Linked DNA regions of Homo sapiens: region 2 is linked to region 1. A link means that fine-mapping ties the variant in region 1 to the expression of a gene that starts in the linked region. Tissue or cell type: whole blood. Region 1 holds a variant in brackets; the other region holds the start of a gene. All regions are shown on one strand. Distances are between the middles of the regions.

Evidence for each region. PIP is the estimated chance that this variant, and not a neighbour inherited with it, causes the effect.
Region 2: it holds the start of PDZK1IP1, and the variant in region 1 is fine-mapped to the expression of PDZK1IP1 in whole blood (TOPMed, PIP 0.96).

What each region holds. Positions count from the first base shown.
Region 1 is chr1:46,560,808-46,568,910 of GRCh38, reverse strand. It overlaps MKNK1 (MAPK interacting serine/threonine kinase 1), which reads left to right. Exons shown (of 13, transcript NM_001135553.4): 8 at 413-468; 9 at 3,775-3,870; 10 at 6,068-6,262; 11 at 7,269-7,433. It overlaps MKNK1-AS1 (MKNK1 antisense RNA 1), which reads right to left. Exons shown (of 8, transcript NR_038403.1): 6 at 5,335-5,399; 7 at 614-705; 8 at 1-429. Among named protein-coding and RNA genes, the nearest start is that of KNCN, 13 kb to the right of the region's middle. The variant G/A (reference allele first, on the strand shown) is at 4,288.
Region 2 is chr1:47,186,579-47,194,681 of GRCh38, reverse strand. It overlaps PDZK1IP1 (PDZK1 interacting protein 1), which reads left to right and starts at 4,646. Exons shown (of 4, transcript NM_005764.4): 1 at 4,646-4,816; 2 at 7,255-7,363. The coding sequence starts at 4,750. RefSeq lists an enhancer at 2,292-3,241 and a silencer at 4,071-4,365.

The DNA.
Region 1 (8,103 bases):
GAAATGAGGTAGAGCAGTTAAGCCCCCTGAGATGCTCTTAAACAAGGCACTAATTATTTCTGCATTGCTGTTCCAAGCATTGCCGTTTGCAGAGCTCTCTGCTCTGCTCTGCATTAGGCCTTCTTCTTGGTGGTCACTGTGGTACTGAGGGGTAGGCTGGCTGGGATTCATTTAGCCCTTCTTATCCCTGCCAGACTTCTAAAGCCTCCTCTTCAAAAGAACCCGCAGAATCAACTGTGCTTTTGGTTTGTGTCGCTGGTTACTTCTGCCTCCTGCAGCTCGTTGATTTTTTAATGTACCATAATTGGGAATTAATCTGCGAACTACAGCATTTGGAAAAAATTAATTGTGTGTGGAATGTTTGATAATTATCTGCATATGTTAACCATTTTTTTGCTCTTTGTCATGTCAGGCATTGCTCATCGTGATCTGAAACCAGAAAATATATTGTGTGAATCTCCAGAAAAGGTACTTTGGGCCTGATTTGGAATGTTATAGTTTATACTTACCGAGGAAGCCACCCTTGCTTTCAGGATGGATTGTTAGCAGTTCCGTTGGCCTCAGACACCAACTTGAACTGATCGTCTTGGACATGTGAGAATGTTACACTTACTGTGTGATGTTTCTGCCCATCCTCGTCCTTTCTTCGCTCTTGATCATCAGTGTGATTGATGTAAGCCTGAGAGTTTGGAAAATATATGAGACCTGCACAAAATTAATATTTTCTAGTCCAATGCATCTATCTTTATATCAGTTGATGGAAGTCGTAAATACTTTTTTTTTTTTTTTGAGACGGGGTCTCACTTTGCCACCCAAGCTGGAATGCAGTGGCATGATCACAGCTCACTGCAGCCTCGACTTCCCAGGCTCAAGTGGTTCTCCCACCTCAGCCCCCCAAGTAGCTGAGACAACAGGCATGTGCCACCACACCTGGCTAATTTTTGTATTTTTAGTAGAGACAGGGGTTTCACCATGTTAGCCAGGCTGGTCTCGAACTCCTGAGCTCAAGCAGTCCACCTGCCTTGGCTTTCCAAAGTACTGGGATTGCAAACGTGAGCCACCATGCCCAGCCAAACAACTTAATCTTATGTGAAGCAGATCTCTTTAAGTAAACGGAAGTGTATGAATTTGACAAATTCTGTGTTTATTAGGAGAGATTTAGGCACTGGTGGTGTTGGGGCCCACGTTCACAGCTCTGCGTGTATATACATGTGTGTATTCAAGAGCATATATATTGTGGTCTGGATGAAGCCGCGGCTCATAAATAAGGGGTGGCCTTGAATGAATGAGTCAGTCTGCTACTCACAACTCTTTTATGGGGAATAATAATGGATTCGCTCAAATAAGATCTTGTGACTTCTGTCACTGATTCTGTCGTAGACCTTTATAATTTATCATTATTATGATGATTACTACTAATAATTACAGTGAACACTTCTTGAGTGCTTACATTGTGCCAGGCACTTATATTTATTTAGTGTTTATGAAATATCATGAGGTAGATACTATTATTACCTTCATTTTATGGACGAGGAAACTGAAACTCAAGTTAGGAAACATGTATAGCCAGTGAGCCATGATTGCACCACTGCACTCCAGCCTGGGCAGCAGAGATTCTGTCTCATAACAAGAACGTGAGGAAAGGCAAGGCGAAAGAGAGGAATAATTGGGACCAGGCAGTGGCTCACGCCTATAATCCCAACACTTCGGGAGGCTGAGGCAGGAGGATCCCTTGAGGCCAGGAGCTTAAGAACAGCCTGGGCAACAAAGCGAGACCCCATCTCCACAAAAAATTTAAAAATTAGCTGGTCACAGCGGTTGCATGCCTGTAGTCCCAGCTACTCAGGAGGCTGAGGTAGGAGAATTGCTTGAGCCTGGAGTTTGAGGCCAGCCTGGGTGATATAGTGAGACCCCTGTCTCTTAAGAAAAAGAGAGGTTAAGTTTCAAAGGACATTATCTATCAAGAAAGTGAAAAGACAATCTACAGAATGTGAGAAAATATTTGCAGATCATATATCTGGTCAAGGTTTAATATCCAAAATATATAAAGGATTCCTAAAACTCTACAACAAAAAGACAAACCAATTTAAAAATGGACACGGGACTTGAACAGACATTTCTCCAAATAAGGTACACAAATGTCCAACAAGTACATGAAAAGATGCTCAACATCCTTAGTCATTAGGGAAATGCAAGTCAAAACCACAATGAGATACCACCACATACTACTAGGTAGGCTGTAATTTAAAAAATGGAAAATAGTAAGTGTTGTTACGGTTATGGAGAAATCGTAACCCTCATACATTGCTGGTGAGATTATATAATGGTGCAGCTTCTGTGGAAAAGTTTGGCGGTTCCTCAAAGGCTAAACACAGAATTACCATATGACCCAGCAATTCCACTCCTAGGTATTACCCAAAACAATTGAAAACAGATACTTGTATAGCAGTATTCATTACAGCATTGTTCACAACAGCCAAAAAGGTAGAGACAACTCAAGTGGTCATCAGCAGCTGAACAGATAAACAAAATGTGGTACATACATTCAATGGAATACTAGTCAGCCATAAAATGGAATGAGGTTTTGATACATGCTGCAACATGAATGAACCTTGAAAACATTATGCTAAGTGAAATAAGCCAAACATAACAGGACAAATATTGTGTAAATCTACTTATATGAAATATCTGGAATGGGCAAATTAATAAAGACAGAAAGTCTTAATTAATAAAGTCAGATTGGAAGTTACCCAGGGCTAGGGGAAGAAAGAATGGGAGTTATTGCTTAATGCGTATAGAGTTTCTGTTTGGAGTGATGGAAAAGTTTTAGAAACAGATCGTGGTGATGGTTGCACAACCCTGTGAATGTACTTAATTAATACCACTAAACTGTCTACTTAAAAATGGCTAAAATCTCATATTTTATGCTTTATATTTTACCACTAATAAGAGGCTAAAGGAAAAAGAAAAGAAGAAAAAATAGAGAAAAGGGGAGGGAGGAAGGAAGGGGAGAAAGAAGTCGAGGGACTTGCCCAGGCTTCCCGGCAAGGACATGGGTCTCAGAGAACCAGCATTTAGTTCACTCGCTGTGCTGCTTACATGCCATGTAGGCCATTCTCATCCATTCTCATGTGTGCACCCAAACTGCCTTCCTGGTTGGCTCCAGAGATGAGGCACCTGTCTGTGGTCTCAGGCACAGCATCCAGTTCTGGTGGACTTGGTTACTGTGTTGATGCCACCTACGGTGACCAACCATCCCAGTTTTCCCAGGCTTGAGGGGTTTCCTGGAACGCAGGAGTTTCCGTGTTTAAACTGATCAAGTCCCAAGCAAGCCACCCAAGACAAGTTGGTCACCCTAAGCCACCTGAGGCGGTCAGAGGTTTTACTGCAAGCTCCTTTACACTCCACTGAATGGGCTGCAAGAAGTCTGTCTCTCAGGAGTACACAGTAACTTCCCTAGCTGCTGTGCTGCAACCTGTACCATCATTTGCCAGCAAGAGTTCCATACTTCCTTTAGTCTGAGTTCACAATAATCTGACACCAAATAGTCCACCCATTTTTCCCTTAGATGGGAAATAAGAGAGCTCAGGGAATAAGACACTTGGGAAGAAATCCTCAGGGGACTTCTTGTTAACCTCCGGAGAGCAAACATGACCTGACAAAACCAGCTGCGGTGTGACAGCCACGGAGCCATGCACCCGTACAGCCATGCCTGGCTCCTCTTGCCCCGTAGTTTCTTATATCTGTGACCCTGTCTTCTGTTTTCCTTTTCAGGTGTCTCCAGTGAAAATCTGTGACTTTGACTTGGGCAGTGGGATGAAACTGAACAACTCCTGTACCCCCATAACCACACCAGAGCTGACCACCCCAGTACGTATGCTTCCTCTGGGCTCCTAAGTATTTGGAGTGTTTCCCTGATCCAGAGCTGGGAGGTCCAGAACAGAGGGTTAAGGATGGAAAACCAAGTGGACCTATCTTCCTGCTGCCTGAGTGATCATTTTGCTTGCTGCTCTGTGTTCGTGGCTCTCAAGCCTCCCCTGACCCCTTAGTTGCTAACGAAACTGACACTTGGACTGTTAGTTGGGTTGGGTCCTCTCTGCTGATGAAGAGACAAATTATATCTATAAGCACAGGCTGGCCGTTTGCAATGGCTCATGCCTGTAATCCTAGCACTTTAGGAGGTTGAGGCAGGCAGATCACCTGAGGTCAGGAGTTTGAGACCAGCCTGACCAACATGGAGAAACCCCATTGTACTGAAAATACAAAATTAGCCAGGCATGGTGGCGC[G/A]CACCTGTAATCCCAGCTACTTGGGAGGCTGAGGCAGGAGAATCGCTTGAACCCGAGGGGTGGAGGTTGCGGTGAGCCGAGATAGCACCATTGCACTCCAGCCTGGGCAACAAGAGCAAAACTCCGTCTCAAAAAAAAAAAAAAAAAAAAAAAAAAACAATAAAAAAAACACAGGCTGAGCCCTGACTCCTGACCCAGGTGAAAATGGACCCTACTCCCAGGCCAGCCCTTTTGCATATGAGCATTTGGGTAGTTCTGTAAGTCCTATTCCCACTGCTGAAGGCACAGCGCAGCCCCCTTGTAATGGGGGATGGAGAGCTGTTCTCCCTGACTGGACAGGATAGTCTCTCTGTGGTGGGAACTGTGAGGTCTCAGGCTATATGCACATGGGATCGCTTGGCCAAGTTAGCCTGTTTGCTTCTCTGATTTCACATTTCATGACCAGATGGTGCTGCTTGGAGCTACTTCTTCCTAAAACATCTCTTGTATAACTAATAGAGTATAATTATGATTCTTTTGAGATTTGTATGCTTCACAAGTAAATTTTCCTAATAACCCTTTTTTTTTTTTTTTTTTTTTGAGACAGAGTCTTGCTCTGTTGCCCAGGCTGGAATGCAGTGGCGTGATCTCGGCTCACTGCAAGCTCTGCCTCCTGGGTTCATGCCATCCTCCTGCCTCAGCCTCCCGAGTAGCTGGGACTACAGGCGCCCGCCACCACGCCTGGCTAATTTTTTGTATTTTTAGTAGAGACGGGGTTTCACCATGTTAGCCAGGATGGTCTCGATCTCCTGACCTTGTGAACCACCCGCCTCGGCCTCCCAAAGTGCTGGGATTACAGGCGTGAGCCACCACGCCTGGCCCCTAATAACCCTTTTAAGACATGCCCTTTAAGGGCATATTTAATATGCCTGTGTTGTATCTTATTCTAAACAACATTATCAGGAATGTTTCTTTCTTAGCTTCTAACACACTGGACTACCTTGTTTTCAAAGTCATTAATTCTAATTGACAATAACAAAGAAAATATCCTCTCTTGAGAACACTTACCATCTTTCAGTCAAATTAGTTTTGCAGGGTGTGTGGAGGCGGGAGGTGGTTGTTTCTTGGTGAGCCTGAAATAATGAAGAGTGGAGCAAAAAGAACGTGTTTTATTCCTATCAGCCGCTTTCTACACAAGGGTGAGAGAAAGGAATATTGGATTCTGGTCCTAGGGCTGCCATTGATGTGCTCAAACAGATCCCTGTCCCGTTCTTGGCCTTGCCCTTGCCATCTATAAATGGGAGGGGTGGGAAGGTTGGATTTGTTCTAAGAGCTTTGTAGCTTTGACGGTCTCTTAATTGTTACACTTCCTGCTCTGAGCTAGCAGGGGAGCACGACAGGATTCACTTTAAGAAATCTTGCTGTGTGGAACTGGATCTCCTTCCAGAGCCACATTCTTGGTGCATTTAAGTACCTGTACATGAAATATCTGTTTATAGGAAGCTGAAGCAGGGGGAGATTCCTGGAACTTCTTGGCCAAGGGTCTTTGCCTACTGGAGGAGGAACTGGAAGGATAAGGTGACCTGAACTGCTCCTCTGGATGATGGAAAATGATGGAGCTCAGTCTGCAGATGCCTTGGTGGCATCAGGCGGCTCACTGGCTGGCCTTCCTGATCTGTATCTCATCCTTCCAGCCTCCTGCTCCAGTCCCATCACAGTCTGCTCTCTGCCATCCCCTCTGCTGTAACTAAGCCTCTCTGTTCTCTGCCATCTCCCCCTCCCCCAACCCTGGCCCCCACAGTGTGGCTCTGCAGAATACATGGCCCCTGAGGTAGTGGAGGTCTTCACGGACCAGGCCACATTCTACGACAAGCGCTGTGACCTGTGGAGCCTGGGCGTGGTCCTCTACATCATGCTGAGTGGCTACCCACCCTTCGTGGGTCACTGCGGGGCCGACTGTGGCTGGGACCGGGGCGAGGTCTGCAGGGTGTGCCAGGTGAGTGCGGCCCCAGGGAGCACTGCGTAGACCCTGCTAGGGGTCAGTGTGGTTGGGGGATGCCAAGCAGGACTGGGCTGGGAGAGCGTTCCTGATCGGGATGGGGGCTCATAGTGCCCTCTCCCGCTCCTGTCACGGTGGCCACAAGGTAAAATAGAGATAATCAGACACTCCGCCCAGCTGGGAGTTCAGGGCAGGATTGTTAGAAGATCATGCCTGAACTGACTCTTTTTTTTTTTTTTTTTTTTTTTTTGAGATGGAGTCTCTCTCTGTCGCCCAGGCTGGAGTGCAATGGCACGATCTCGACTCACTGCAACCTCTGCCTCCTGGGTTCAAGCGATTCTCCTGCCTTAGGCCTCCCAAGTAGCTGGGACTACAGGCGCCGGCCACCACGTCTGGCTAATTTTTTATATTTTCAGTAGAGACGGGGTTTCATCGTGTTAGCCAGGATGGTCTCAATCTCCTGACCTTGTGATCCTCCCGCCTCGGCCTCCCAAAGTGCTGGGATTACAGGCGTGAGCCACCGCGCCCAGCCCTGAACTGACTCTTAAAGGGTGCATCCTGCCCTGCGGAAGAGGGACAAGAATCACAAGTAGAAGGAACAGCACGGGCATAGATGTGGGCACATGAAATAGCTGGAGTGTCTAGGAAGGAAGAGTGGAGTAGTAGGTCGGTGGTAGTGGGAGATGAGGCCTGAGAGGTTCACAGAGAGTCCTCTAGGAAGAGCCAAGGAATTTGGGCTTTGTTCTATGGGTGATCTCCACTCATCACCCATCCAGCCCACCAAGGGCATAGCCATCCTGGCCTGCCAAGGGCATTCTATATAGTTTGATCATCTAGGGGACAGTGCGGGGTGAGTCTGGGAAGAGGCCCCAGTCTGTGGCATCCCCAAGCCATGAGCTGCAGCTACAGCTGAGATCAATTGAAGCCGGTTGATCAAAACAATGACAGGCACATCCTGCCCATCCCTGGCAGTGTGGCCTCAGGAGGAATCTTTTGTACCTAGAACAAGCTGTTTGAAAGCATCCAGGAAGGCAAGTATGAGTTTCCTGACAAGGACTGGGCACACATCTCCAGTGAAGCCAAAGACCTCATCTCCAAGCTCCTGGTGCGAGATGCAAAGCAGAGACTTAGCGCCGCCCAAGTTCTGCAGCACCCATGGGTGCAGGGGGTGAGTGACTCCAGGGAGGGGTGTTTTCCACCACTTCAGGCCTGTGGCATGGCCACAAGGAAGCTGTCATGCCAGCAAGTGCTGAGCACCAGCCTTGTGGCTGGTGCAGCTGAAGAGGACAGCGTCTATCCCTGAGTGTGTAGAGTGAATCGACTCCTCCTGTTACCCCAGACTGAGCCCCTTATAGGCCATAGAGTTGGCTGTAAACTTGGCCACAGACTAAGCCCCAACAGAGTCCTCTGGGGATTTGGTACATGCACCCAGCCCCGCAAGCATCCTATTGTCATTTGAAGTCTGTAGCATCCTCCTCTTATATAGAAGCATCATTAGCTGAGGACACCCAGAAGTGAGCAAGGCCGTGCTGCGCTGATTGTTGTGTGGCCGAGTTGGGGCACATAGGTTCTCCTCATGGTCTGGGAGTCTGGGTACAGCTGGCCTGAAAGGCAAATGATCGTATTTTTTCCCTAAGCTTAGAATTCATGTCTTCACTAGAAAACATTTTTAAAAATCCTCCTTGGCTACTCACAATACCTGACCTCTGCCCTCCAAGGGGTCTGCCAGATGCTCCCATGACTTTCTGGTCTCCTTGGTGTGCCAGGCTCTGGCCAGCCTCAGTGACCCTACCAGTGGAAGGAGGCAAGCATTGCCATCCTATGTTGCAGATGGGGAC
Region 2 (8,103 bases), 630 kb before region 1:
CCCAGTCTAGGGTATTTTTATTAAAGTGGTACAAAGAGACTAAGACAAACCCCTTTTGCAGACACCTCATTGGGTGACCTGGTCCATGGCCTCTGCTCTTACATGTCTAGGGAAGGAGAGCTCACCCTCCAGGACACCCTCATATCAGGCTGAACAGCTCTAACTGTCAGAGGAATGGTTGCCTTGTCTTCTCCTTCACATACAGAGATGAATCAGACACAGTCCTTGCCCCACAGATAGAGAGTGGAGAGAGACAAGGACTCAACTACAGCTAAAATGTTTTATTCATTGAACAACCTTTCTCTGAGCTTCTGCTCTTTGTTAGGCCAGTGGTAGGCACTGCATATACTGACATTTAATTTCATAAAATGTGTGTCGAGTGTGTACTCAGGCACTGTGCTCAGTACTGGCTGCTGAGGGAGAGATAGACATGATACCTTCCCTCCATGGAGACAGTTATTAAATGAGTAAACATACAAATCAGTGTGTAATTGCAACTTGTGATCATGGCTGTGAGGAGATGAGCAAAGGAGACTCATAGAAGGGAGTGACTTCAGATGGGAGAGAAGGGAAGTAAAGAAGTATTCTTGAAGAAAGGGATGTAAAGGAAGATCAGTTTGCTGGGCAAATAGGAGTGGAAGAGTGTTCCAGGCAGAGAAAAGAGCAAGTGGAGAGAAGTCTCTGATGTGGGAAAGAGCTTGGCTTTTGTTAGGAAGTGACAGGAGGCTCCGGGGCCAGACCAAGCTGGAGTGGTGGGTAAGGAAGATTGCCTGTGCCCTCAAACCCATGCAAAGAAGTTTGCATATTATTTTAAGGGCTGATGAATGCCATAAAAGGGTTTAAGCAAGATACGTTTGAAAGAATAAAACAAGGTCTCCAGGAGCTCTCTGGCTTACAGCAATGATATTAACAAGATGAAGTATTATAAGAATTAGTAAAGAGCTGGGCGCGGTGGCTCACGCCTGTTATCCCAGCACTTTGGGAGGCCGAGGCGGGCTGATCACTTCAGGTCAGGAGTTTGAGGCCACCCTGGCCAACATAGTGAAACCTCGTCTCTACTGAAAATACAAAAATTAGCTTGGTGTGGTGGTGGGCGCCTGTGATCCCAGCTACTCAGGAGGCTGAGGCAAGAGAATCGCTTGAACCCAGGAGGCGGAGGTTGCAGTGAGCCAAGATTGAACCACTGCACTCCAGCCTGGGTGACAGAGAGAGACACTGAGAGGGAAAAAAAGAAAGCTTTTATATTTGTGTTCTAAACACCCTTCTTGAATGTTCTCTGTACTTTTTCTCAGGCTAAGCTCTTTGCCTGGATTCCTCTCCCCAGACTGTCTGCCGAGTACAACACTCTGGCTAACTTTGCCTGCATTACCTCCTCCAGGATGCCTTCCTTAGCAATGTAGTCCACCACGCTGCCCTATGTCAGAGCCCTGAGCACTCCCTGTATGCTGTTCCCAGACTATTTACATGTCAATGTCCACCGTCCCTTTCTTCAGACCACCCCTGGAGGAGGGCAAAAGTGGGGGCTGGAGGGAGGGGAAGTTGCAGAATCTTCAGCAGCAAACTGGCTCCCTGCACGCCCAGTCTGGTATTGGAGCTAGACACTGCCACCTGCTGGCAGTGAGTGGAATGGCTGACAAGATGGGGTTGGGAGGAAGGAGACTGCTGGAAACAGTCCAGGCCCACTTTGGCTTTTCTGAAGGGCAATCGCATAAGGTCTGGCTGGATGGAGGGCTTGTCTAAGGGGCCTGATGGTTTTGCGTGACAGCTGGGCTGGAACAGGAAGGAGGAACTGAACGTCGATGGAACAGCTGCTCAGGACACACGGTGCAGCCCTGTGGGGCTGCTGAGACCTTAGTCCAGACCCTGGGCCCCAGCCAGACCAGTAGGGGGGCCCACCTTGTTACCATGGGGATCAGGGCTGTGTCCATACAGCTGGGGAGATGACCCTCCACCCGTGTGAAGACCTCCAGGGAGGAGGGACCAGCCTCAAAGCCAAGTGTCCACCCATGCTCCCTCTTTTCTGGAACAACTTGTTTTGCTCTAAAGCTTGGGACTTTGACCCAGGAGGTATGTTTTCCTCCTGTTGATCACCTGGTGTCCTTCCTGTTCATCCCCTTCCCCCACCACTCCCAAAGCATAGCCCAGGGGATCCTTTCCTTTCCCTGGGTTTTTCAGGGAAGTGGAGGATACTGGGGTGGGGAAGGCAGAACCTGGGACTTGAGTGCTGAGGGCACTGGTTGGAGGGGGTGGCACAGCTGTGACCCCCCCACCCTCCTTAAGTCTGTCCTTGCTTGGCTCCTGGGATACCCCACTTTCCTGGGGTTGCTTCCTCCTGTTTCCTCCTGCCCCTTCTTCCTTTGAAAGACCTTTGTGTGTTGGGGGCGTGTCTCCTTCTTTCTGTGCTCTCCCCTCAACACCCCTACCCCCGCTACACACACTGGGGAGACCATGAGCTCCCAGGCCTCAGTTACCATCCCTGTGCTGCAGACGGCTCCCAGATGTTCCACTCCAGATGCAGGGATTTTGCAGCCTTCCAGATGTCTCCCTCTGGAAAGTCCACAGGCACTGCAAGCATAATACCTCAAAATCTATAGCTCATTAATCCTCCAACCCCCCAAACTTGCTCTGGCCCCTACTGAGGCACTAGCATCTACCCAGCTGCCTACGCCAGAAACCTGGGAGTCACCTGAAGCCCTGCCTCCTGCCTGTACCCATTCTCCCAGCTTGGCACTGTGTTCCAGCAGCCACACCCCGGCTTCTCTACCTCCTCAACAGGGCTCAGATCTGTTCCCATGGGCACTTCCTGCCCAGGTCCAGGCACTGGTGTTGTGGCCACTGTAGCAGATCCCTGGATTTCTCTTCTCCAGCCTTTGCATGCCCCTTTCACTCTCCACACTGCATGGAGAGGTGTTTTCCCAAACGCAAAACTAACCATGTGACTCTCCTCCCTAAAATTCTTGGAGAAGGCACCAGTAGATGTTTGTTAAATTCAGCCCCATTCCTTACATTCCAATCAGTGATTCTCTGGCTGTTCATTAACATGCACAGTGCTTACTCCAGTCTGTGTTAGAAGATTCTGAGGACACCAAGTTGGGTGTGGGAGGGAGGCCAGGATATACATGTTTGGGAGGCATCACTCAACTCCAAGCAAAGTTCTCCCAGATCACCTTGAGACACTCCATCTTTGGATGGCAATGGGCCCGACTGCACACGCATGTGAACACACACACACACACCCACACACACCACACACACACACACACACACACACACACACACACACACACACACACACAGGAAGCAGGCCTGAGGCATGATGTCTGAGTGCTCCCGCTGGAGCAGGAAGGCAGAATCAACCTGCCATAGGAAGGGTTGCCCAGGAGGCCTGATGAATAGGAGTTTGGTGGCTTCAGGGAAGAGAGGCTGTGGAGGTGCCTTCAGCTCAGGTGCTGGCTCCTGGGGACCTTCCATCTCTGATGAGACTTTGTTCCAGTTGGCCCGCTCCTTTCTAGGGAGTCAGCATCTCAGCTTCCCATACTTCTGGGGTGGGGGGTGGGGCAAGGAGACCAGCATGACCCTTGGTCAGGGGCTTGCACAGGAACTCTGGCCATTCTCATTCCCTGAGCTGGAGGGCCAGGTGGACACCACGTGATCCTGGGGAGGCTTTTGCCTCTTCCGAGGGCTCTGGCTCCAGGGCCTCCCTGTTCCAGGGGCTAGGTGTGCCTTCCTCAATGCTGCTTTTGGCTATGAGGGTGACGGGCCCAGGGCTTCAGGGCCCCAGATCGCACCTTGCCATCTGGGGTGTCCGTCCTTTGTCCCCCACAGCAGGCTGTGTTTGCCCATTTTCTCCTCTGCCATGGGTGGAGATGGATCTGAAGTTGGGTGTTGAAGCCTCTGACCAAGGCTGTATCTTGTTTTGAGGCCCTGCCCGGTTTCCAGGGACCACATCTGGGGCCAAGAGGAAGAACCGAACTGGGACTAGGTTAGCTGTGCTGGGTCAGGGCCTGGGCATGGGCTGTGAAAGCTGGGGACTGGGACCTTCAGGCCCTCTATTGAGATCTTTGCAGAAGGGGGTGGATTTAGGAAGCTACTGGGCTGGGCCAGGGCGTGGAAGGCACTGAAGCCGTAGTGTGTCCCAGCATTAGAGTCCCAGAGTTTAGCTTGGCGGGGCAGGGGCAGGTGGTGGGGAGAACAGGAAATAGGCCAGGCTCTCGGCGGAGTCTGGCAGCTTTGAGCCTTCTCTGGGCTTCTGGGGTTTTCCCCAGGCTCCTGAGCCAGCCAGGACATTTCTTAATCCCACTGTCAGCCTTCCAAGAAGCCCCGCCCACTGGGCTCAGTCAAGGCAGGAGCGACTGTGTGTCACCCCTTTCCCTAGAATCCAGCCCCACTGCCAGGAAAAGGGAGCTCAGGGCATGGAGGTGAGGCTGGGACTCTCCCACATCTGCTTGTTCCTCATACCCACCTCCTTAGCTGGCCCCTGGAAGATGACCTCGAATGCCAGCCCAAGTGAGCTGGGCACCAGCCAGGGGAGGCCAGGTCTGGCAGCTCATTACCATGGGAGGGAGGGCACGTTCTCTCCGACGCCCGTCTTCGTGTCTCCTCCCTCCCTCGCCTTCCTCCTTCCTAGCTCCTCTCCTCCAGGGCCAGACTGAGCCCAGGTTGATTTCAGGCGGACACCAATAGACTCCACAGCAGCTCCAGGAGCCCAGACACCGGCGGCCAGAAGCAAGGCTAGGAGCTGCTGCAGCCATGTCGGCCCTCAGCCTCCTCATTCTGGGCCTGCTCACGGCAGTGCCACCTGCCAGCTGTCAGCAAGGTAGCTCAGGAGGAGAGGGCTGGGCACGGGAGACCCAGGGGTGGACAGGTGGTGTTCTGGCTCCCCTCCCCAGGGCCTTGATACTTACAGTTTGGAGGGGGAGCAGGGACTGCGCTAGCTGAAAGAATGTCCCAAGGCAGAGACCTCTGAACCAAGTCTCTGCCTGTCACTTGTTTTCAACGAGTGAAAACTGGCAGCAGTTGGTTCTAGGATCTCAGGGAGGAACAGGATTTGAGGCCCAAGCCCCAAGAGCAGGCATTGCCCAAGGGATGGCTGGGTCCTGAGTACAGGGGACCCGGGGGTACAAGTAGGGTGAGAGTGGGGCCCAAGCCACCCCTCAAAGACTTGGGCTTTGTCTCGGCCTCTTGGGCTTGGATAGAGAACAGTGCCCAGTGTGACTCCCCCAAATATCTGACCTCTTCGTCCTGCTCTGCCTGAATGGATGTGTGACCTTGAGCAAATCACTGCCCCTTCCTGAGACTCAGTTTTCTCACCTATAAAATGAGAACAATAAACCCCACCCTGCCCACCTCCCAGGGCTGCTGCCAGGTCAGAGGTGAAGAAGGGCTTTGCACCTGGTGAAGTAACTAACCCAAGGTCTGGCTTTCATTCTACACTGTCAGGCTGCATCTGCAGCCAAAGTCTGGGGACTCTGCAGGTGGGACTTGGTCCAGAGGGGACTGGCAAAGATGCTTTCAGAGCTCCCCTCCCACCCCCACCCCGAGCTCTTATGTGTGTCTGCTTCAACTCTGTCTCCCAGGTCTTGGAAGCCCTCTGGGGAACTGCAGACCAGAGAGGTTGAGTCACAGAGCACGGCAAGAAAGGACAGGGTTCAGACCACCTTTCTCCTGCCCCAGACACTGCCCCTTGCTGTATGTGCATGGGAGGAGGAGCAGGGACTGTGGTCCCTGGGGTGACTGGAGAGAATTGGCTGCAGGGTCTAGGAGGAAACAGGGAGGGGCCTCCAAGGGTTGAGCCCTAACTCCCCATGCTTGAGCAACCACTGACCTGAGGGAGCAGTCTGAACCCCTAGGGAAACAATGACTCCCAAATACTGCTTTTTGGCAGGTGTGGAACTGAGGGTAATCACACTGTGTGTCTTCTGCTTCCCCTGGAGATAAGTGAGGTCTGACCTCACTACAGGCCAGAGAGTTCCTAGCCTCCTTCCTCCTTCCCAATATTTGCCAGGCTCGGAGAAGAGGTCAGGCCTCCACTGCAGCAGGAGAGCTTTTGGTAGACTCAAAGGAGGACATTTGAGCAGGAGTGAGCCAGAGGAAGGTTTTCTCATGTCCAGCTTGGGTCCCTCAAAATATAGGGATGCAGGTATATTCTGGCCTGGAGGCAGGACCCCTCTGAAGCCCCCTGCTGACCTGTGTTTTGTCCTGGGACTTCTCCCCGCTGAGGGTCTTTTCTCTACAAGGCTGAGCTCCTGCAGGCTCATGGAGTGCAGTGATGCTGGGGAAGAGGAAAGTCCTTTGGGGAAGCAGAGGCCTGAAGGCAGGGACTTCAGGAAAATCTTGAGGGACTGTGTTGGTGTCAAGGGTCAAAAAGCAGAGAAGGGACCTGGTGCAGTAGCTCATGCCTGTAATCCCAGCACTTTGGGAGGCCAAGGCCAGAGGCTCGCCTGAGCCCAGGAGTTTGAGACCAGCCTGGGCAACGTAGTAAGACCCTGTCTCTATTAAAAAATAAAAAAAGTAGAGAAGGGTGCAGGTTGGGGCCTCAACCTAATCTCTGGCCCTAGTCCCTGGGCACCCAGCTGGGGGAATCAAAAGGAGCTCAGGTTTTGAGGCTTCTTTCCTGGTCCCCAAGACCCAGAGTAGAGTTCACCCCTCCATTCTGCCCTTCTAAAGATGTCCTGGTCCACTCCTCTCTCTGGGTACCCCAGGCACCCCAGATCTCCCCAGCTGAGCAGCCCTGAGAGTCTCCCACTCTCATACCCTTCCTACCATCAGAGAAACGTCTTGCTACAGAACAGGATCTTCTAGATCCCAGACCAGTCTTGTCAGCTGTGGGTCCTCCTCAGCCTTCTGGGAGCCACTCCCAGCTGCAAGGCCTAGGCCGGCTGTCCAGGGGGCTGCCCTTTGGTCCCTGGGGCTGCATGTGACCCACCTGCGGGAGGGAAAGAGGCTCTGGGCTGCCTAGATACAGCACTGAGGCTCTTCCCTCCTTGGCTTCTCACTCCTTCCAACTCCCTTCTCTCTGAGCCTCTGTTGTTCCTCCAGCTCCCTCCTTTTCCTAAGCTCGGTGGAGCTTAAGATGCATAAGTGGGTCAGATGGGCTGTATCCCACCCCTGCCTCCCCACAATGTCTCCTTGCTCCTGGCAGCTGGCTGAGGGCCTTCAGCATAGGTGGGGTCCTTGAAGAGTGAGGCCCCTCGCTCTCCTGCACATGCAGCCCCACTGTGGCCCCGTCTGCTACAGCCCCTCTCCCTTTGTTAGGCCTGGGGAACCTTCAGCCCTGGATGCAGGGCCTTATCGCGGTGGCCGTGTTCCTGGTCCTCGTTGCAATCGCCTTTGCAGTCAACCACTTCTGGTGCCAGGAGGAGCCGTGAGTGCTGCCCAAGGGTCCCTGAGCAGGCAGGGTGGGCCCAGGACCACTGCTCTTGCTCTAGTAGCAGTGAGAAGGGCCTCAGAAACCCTGTGTCCAATCCTCCCCCTGAGGCTCAAGGGAAGGGAAACTGAGGCTCAAGGTCATGGGGTGGGTTGGTGACAGTCGGGATGAGGGAATGAGAGCCTAGGCTTGCTGGCTCCCAGACCTGGGCACTGTGGGCCCCACAGCTCTGGTGCCCACTCCCTGTGAGTTTTGGGGAAACGGCTTCGCTTCTTGGAGTCTTGGTGTTTCCGCAGAGCCAGGATAGCGGCCCAGCCTGTGATGGGGGCTGTAAGGACCTCTAGAAGGTGCGGTCCCTCCTTTGGGTGGGTCAGCTGTGGTACAGAGAGGGCATGGGACAGACACACCTCCTGCCCTCACAGGCTCAGACTGGAGTGAGCTGTCAGAAGTTCAAGAGTTGCTGCTGAGGGAGAGCGCAGAGGACACTGCAGGGCCTGACCTGGTCCGGGGTGGCCAGAGAAGGCTTCCCCATTGCACATTTATCCCGAAACCTGACTAACGAGGAGGAGTCACTACCAGGATAGAGTGGCGTGGGAAGAGCGCTGCAGTTGAGGGAAGGGTACACCCAGGTCCTGAGTTAGGGGCACGGCACCAGGGCTGCTGGGGACAGACACACACAGGTGAAGGGCAGGTGGGCTGAAATCCAGCTCACTCTGCACTCACCAGGTCAGGACCCT